Linked DNA regions of Homo sapiens: region 1 is linked to region 2. Evidence: fine-mapped expression QTL. A gene starts in region 2. The other region holds a variant in brackets. All regions are shown on one strand. Distances are between the middles of the regions. Region 1 overlaps ZHX3 (zinc fingers and homeoboxes 3). Region 2 holds the start of PLCG1 (phospholipase C gamma 1).

The links.
Region 1: its variant is fine-mapped to the expression of PLCG1 in lymphoblastoid cells (TwinsUK, PIP 0.95).

Annotation. Positions count from the first base shown.
Region 1 is chr20:41,294,397-41,297,300 of GRCh38, reverse strand. All of the region lies in intron 1 of ZHX3 (zinc fingers and homeoboxes 3), which reads left to right. Among named protein-coding and RNA genes, the nearest start is that of ZHX3, 22 kb to the left of the region's middle. The variant C/T (reference allele first, on the strand shown) is at 1,662.
Region 2 is chr20:41,135,758-41,138,612 of GRCh38, reverse strand. PLCG1 (phospholipase C gamma 1) reads right to left here and starts at 1,070. Exons shown (of 32, transcript NM_002660.3): 1 at 755-1,070. The coding sequence starts at 971. It overlaps LOC124904903 (translation initiation factor IF-2-like), which reads left to right and starts at 1,100. Exons shown (of 2, transcript XM_047440629.1): 1 at 1,100-2,855. The coding sequence starts at 1,274. The coding sequence ends at 1,855. PLCG1-AS1 (PLCG1 antisense RNA 1) reads left to right here and starts at 613. Exons shown (of 7, transcript NR_109889.1): 1 at 613-899; 2 at 2,802-2,855. RefSeq lists enhancers at 1-32, 181-280, 202-986, 1,771-2,555 and silencers at 431-690, 811-1,800.

The DNA.
Region 1 (2,904 bases), 160 kb before region 2:
CAGCTGTGGGACCAACTCAGGCCTATTGGGGGAACACAGGCTAGCCTTGGGAGTTTTGAATCATCAATACTTGGGAGTATTTTAGAATTATCAGATCCTGCCTGCATGTGCATCTCAATCTGAAACCCCAGAACTGCCATTCTCCTTGTGTTGATTCAAGATATAAATGATTCTGGAATTCTATAGACAGAACTTTATCTGTCAGAGTCCCAACAGGAAAAGTTGGCATTCTCAACTTAGGATAATTCCAAGAGAGTTTACTTCAAGAGGTATGGGCAGGATGTAGAGAAAACCATAAGGGATAGTGCAGGAACCAGGGTTTATAGTGATGGTGGAGCTGTTACTACCCCTAGCTCCAAAGAGACAAATGGATGAAAATGGATGAAAGTAGTTATCAGGAGCCAGAAGAGATTGTCATTATCAAGTGTCAAGAGGCTACCTTGAGAGGAGCAGTGAATTTTGGTTGAGGGATGCATACGCCACAAGTAGAATGAATTCTCAACTTTATTCCCTCCCTCGCTTCTCCCTTCCTCCCCCGATCTCTTTCTGGGACTTAGCATTGGCTAAACCCAATCAGAGGTCAAGGTCATAGGGACCTGTTGATGTGATTCATAATGATTAGCCTGCCAAGACAGAGAGCAGGGTAGAGAAAGTTGGAGTGGGCATCTGGGAAATAGTAGACTTAAGGACCCCTGTAGTTTTAGAATGGGCAGAGCTCATGTGCACGTGTGTGGCAGAAGGTGGGGAAAAAAGGATGAGATGAGCATTTCTTGAGCATCACCATGTGCTAGGGACTTTCTTGTGACATCACCTTTTGGGGCAAGTAGTATTATTTCCATGTTATAGATGTGGAAAACTTGAGCTCAGATCTCTTGGCCCTAAGTCAACTCAGTCCTGGTGATCCCCGTGGTGACAGGTAGTATTTGGATATTTCTCTTATCTTACTTTCTCTGTGGCCCATTCCAGAAAGCCGCATTTCATACATAGTATTGCTGGGAGAACAGTGAGGACTGTAACAGAGCTGCCATGTATTTTTTTTTTTTTTTTTTTTTTTTTTTTTTTTTTTTTACTTTATGAACTTGAGGAGAAGGGAAAAGAAGAGGAAAAAAACTCAACTTGGCATGAGTGATGTTAAGTGAGATCAAATAAGGTGAAAAGCAAAATAGACTCCAGAAATTTAGTTTTGCTTTTACCCAAAGTTCATGGGCAGTTGCTGAACAAAGTCCTTTTTGCTTTCCACAAATGTTAGGCACTTTTAATAACATGAATCTCATTATCTTTACTTTTTGGTTGTTTATGAACTTAAATAGCATTATAAAGGACAACCAACTGAACGAGAAGATCAAACTGTGTGTGTCACCTTTTACTATTTCATTTCTTGCGAATGTACAAATTCTTACACTTGTAATGAGTTAGTTATTTTGGCTCCTGATAATTTTTTTTTTTTTTTGAGACGGAGTCTCGTTGTGTCGCCCAGGCTGGAGTGCAGTGGCGCAATCTCGGCTCACTGCAAGCTCCGCCTCCCGGGTTCAGGCCATTCTCCTGCCTCAGCCTCCTGAGTAGCTGGGACTACAGGTGCCCGCTACCACGCCTGGCTAACTTTTTTGTATTTTTAGTAGAGATGGGGTTTCACCATGTTAGCCAGGATGGTCTCGATCTCC[C/T]GCCTCGACCTCCCCAAAGTGCTGGGATTACAGGCGTGAGCCACCGCGCCTGGCTGGCTCCTGATAAATTTATTATAAAAGTATTGTACAGCCAACAGTGAAATAGAAAGTTTAAATTTTTTAAAAAGGGAATTCTAATACTCTAGAAAATTCTTGGATTTTCTTTTTTCCTACTTTTTGATCACATGCATGCATAATTTTATATGGCTAGAATTATACAAGTTTGTATTGTTCCCATGTCATTGTAAGCATTTTTCCATGTTGCTATGTAACCTGCATAATTATATATGATAGTTTCTCAGTTTACCTTAAATATTGTCTTATTATATATTTTTAATTTTTTATGCCTTGCTGCATTCTATGAAAAGGATTGCATTCTACTGAAGTGTTTTATGTATTATTTTTCTTTATAAATATTGTTTATTTGCATCTCAGGCAACTAGTTTCCCCACCCCTCCCTCTTTTGTTCTTCTGGAAGAAGAAATGGAATTATTTCTTTAGGATAATTTTGGGAGTGGAATGAGCAACTCTGAAGCTACATCAAGGAACTGGAAATATAGTAGTTTGAGGGATAGCTGAGAGAAGAGTACAATTGAAATAAGTCATTAATACAGAGTTTTTACTTAAAATATTAATGTGGGCTGGGCGCAGGGGCTCATGCCTATGTATAATCCCAGCGCTTTGGGAGGCCGAGGCGCATGGATCACTTGAGGTCAGGAGTTCAAGACCAGTCTGGCCAACATGTTGAAAACCTATCTCTACCAAAAAATATAAAAATTAGCCAGGTGTGATGGCACATGCGTATGGTCTGGCTGAGGTGGGAGGATCGCCTGAACCCAGGAGGCAGAGATTACAGTGAGCAGAGATTGTGTCACTGCACTCCAGCCTAGGCAACAGAGCAAGACTCCATCTCAAAAAATCAATCAATAAATAATGTGGATTTTTATTAAATCTTAGGTTTTAAAAACTATTGCTAAGGCTGGGCACAGTGGCTCATGCCTGTAATCCCAGCACTTTGGGAGGCTGAGGTGGATGGATCACTTGAGGTCAGGAGTTCGAGACTAGCCTGGCCAACATGTTGAAACTCCATCTCTACTAAAAATACAAAAATTACCCAGGTGTGGTGGGGGGGTGCCTGTAATCCCAGCTACTCGGGAGGCTGAGGCAGGAGAATCACTTGAACTCAGGAGGCAGGGGTTGCAGTTAGCCGAGATCATATCGCTGTACTTCAGCCTGGGAGACA
Region 2 (2,855 bases):
ATGGGGCCCATCTCCTGGGAACGTGCTTCCCAGGGCAAGGGGAGTCCCTGCCCTGGCATTGAGTGTCTGCCCACCCACATAGGCCTCCAAAACCCAGCTTTGGGACAAAAGTAGCAGAAAAAAAAAAAAAAAAATTCCAGCCACTGGCTTCTCTCAGGCTTCTCCAAACCAAACAAGACCACCTTCCTCCCTCTCCCCCAGAGGGAGATGAGTAGGCCCAGCTCTGCTCCAAGACCAGCCCTACCCAACATCTGCCTAAGTTCTACTTAGGGAACCCAAAGATTCCTTTGCAAATAAGAGCCCAGCCTGGGGGCCCGGAGAGTTTCACAGACTGCTCTTTCTGGATAAAGAGTGGGCGGGGACCGTCTGGTCAGGCCCCAGGTTCCCGTGCAGGGTGGGGGCCACTGCCTTAGCTCCCCTCGCCGACGCCGCCACCACTCCCAGGGTCTGGGGGGCCCGATGCCTGCACCGCAGGTCTCCAGCCCGCGAGGATTTTTAGGCCTCAGGGCAAAGCGCCTGGAACACTCCCCCCAGCTGGGGGAGGGGGGGTGTCCTGTCAGGTGACCGAGGACCCGGATGCCCCCCGCCCCCAGTGACCACCCGAGACGAAGCGGGGGCGGGGCCCGGAGGGAGTCTGGGAGGGCCCGAAAGTTTGCCCAAGTCGCTGGGGCGGCCGGCCGGGGTGCAAGCAGTCGGGCCGGGCTCCCACGACCCCCGCGCGGGGCGGGCCCAGGCAGGAAGTGGGCGCACTTACTGGCCCCCTCGATCTTGTCGGCGCCCCGGCTCCACGTGATCTGGCGCGTCTCCAGCTTGACCTGGAAGGTCTTCCGCTCGGGTCGCTGCGACTTCTTGGAGTAGAACAAAGTCATGACGGTGCCCACCTCGAGGCTGCGGCAGAGGTGCAGCACCTCGGCGTCCGAGGGCGCGCCGGGCCCGCAGCCGTTGGCGCAAGGGGACGCGGCGCCCGCCATGGCTCCGACGCTGGGGGCGGCGGCGGCACAGGCCAGGACCGCCCGGGAGCAAGCGCAACGGCGGCGGCTGAGGTTGGGGCTGAGGCTGAGGCGGCAGACGAGCGGGACCCGGCGGCGGCTCCTGCAGGCGGACACGGGGCGGGGCCTCAGCGCGGCGGGGCGGGGCTGCCCTGAGGCCCCACCCCGCTTCGGCGCCGGGAACAAAGGCGCCCGCGCACCCGTGGGGAGGACCCCCGCCCGTCGGCCCGCCGCGCCTGCGCCCCGCGACCCCCAGACAGGCCGCAGGCGGGGACGGAGGCGCGATGGCGGCGGGAGCGCGCGCCGTTCCCGGTCGACCCACCCAGCCCTCAGTCCCGCAGAGCTTTCTCACGCGGCCCCGGACACAGCCCGGCGGCCACGAGCGGCCCTGTCACGCACGGCAGCCCCGCCCACAGGCCGCAGGCCCGGCGGCCGGCGCGTCAGTCAGGCGTACTCGCACGGGCGGCCGCTACCCCGCGGTCCCGCACAGACGCAGCCCCCGCGTCCCGAACACCGCCCATGCAGCGACCGGGACGGGACGTGAGGGGATGGCGCGTCCTCCGGGAATGCCCGGCCAAACTCAGTTACCTGGGCGGGCTTCCCGGACAAGGGAGCCAGGACGGGCCGCCTCACACCGGCGGCGGCGGGTCCTCCGCGCGCCCTCTCCCGGGAGGGGCGGGGGCGGGGCTGCCTGCGGATTGGTCGCGGGCACTGATGGACAGCCGACATGTCCCGCCCCCCCGGCAGCGCGGGGCTGGTCCGCAGGCAGTTCTGGCGACGGCCAGACCCACGTCTGTCTGTTCCGCCCCTGCTGCCAGGGTGGCTTTCAGTGGTCCTCTCTTTCGGAGAGTTCCCCCCAAGCGTGAGCACCCCTTACAGGGGCGTTAGGTCCGCGGCCGCGCTGTCCAGTGGTCTGACCTGCAGCTCCCAGGGCCTTTGTGTCTGTCCCTCGCATGGGCCTCTGCACGCTCCGTCCCCACGCGACAGGACTCGAGTCCGATTCGGGGCTCCGACTCAGACCCTACCCCGCAGCGCCCTCCTGCAAATGCTCTCCTGAACTTTGGTTTTCCCCGCCTTGCTTTCTTCCTCCTCCTGTAGCCGCTGCCTCTCGATCTCAGAAGCTTCTCTTCCTCTGCACTCAGTGCTAGGCCAGATCCCAAGGCGACCTGACCTTTCCCCTGGCTTTGCCCAACAACACAGGCACCGGTGACTCCAAACCTGCATCTCCCCTACGTTCCAGGCCCCAGCATCCCACTGCATGTTCCACATCCCCCCCCCTTAGACAGCTCGCCTTCCCTCCCCAAACGATTCCTTCCACAGTCTTCACTTTCTCAGAACGCGGCGCTAAACTTCTCTAAGTTGGAAGGTCAAAAACCTTGCAGCTAACTTTGATTCCTCCCTTTGCCTCACCTCCAATCCATCAAGACCTTGTCACTCAGCCCACAAGCTGAAGGCCCCATCTCCTGTCACCCAGACTACTCACCTTGTTTGGTTTTGCCTGGATCTATCAGTTTGGTTTTGCCTGGATTTATCATGCTTTAAATCTTTAAAATGAAATTAAATCATGATCCCCTACATCCAGGCTAAAACCCTCCGTGAATTCCCATTGCACCTAAAATCCACACTCCCTGCTTGGCCTAGCAGGTTCTATATGACCTGCCCATCTCACCAGTTTCATCTCTCACAAGTGATCCTTCACTCTCCATTCTCCAGCCACAAGGCCTTTTTCTGGTTATGGAATATAATTCATACTCTTTGTCTTTCTGAAGCCATTCTTGAAACTCACCCCTGCAATCTATCTACCCTTGTCAGCACCGCCAAAATTGAGGACACCCACGGTCGCGGTGGAGCCTGTCTGACATGTTG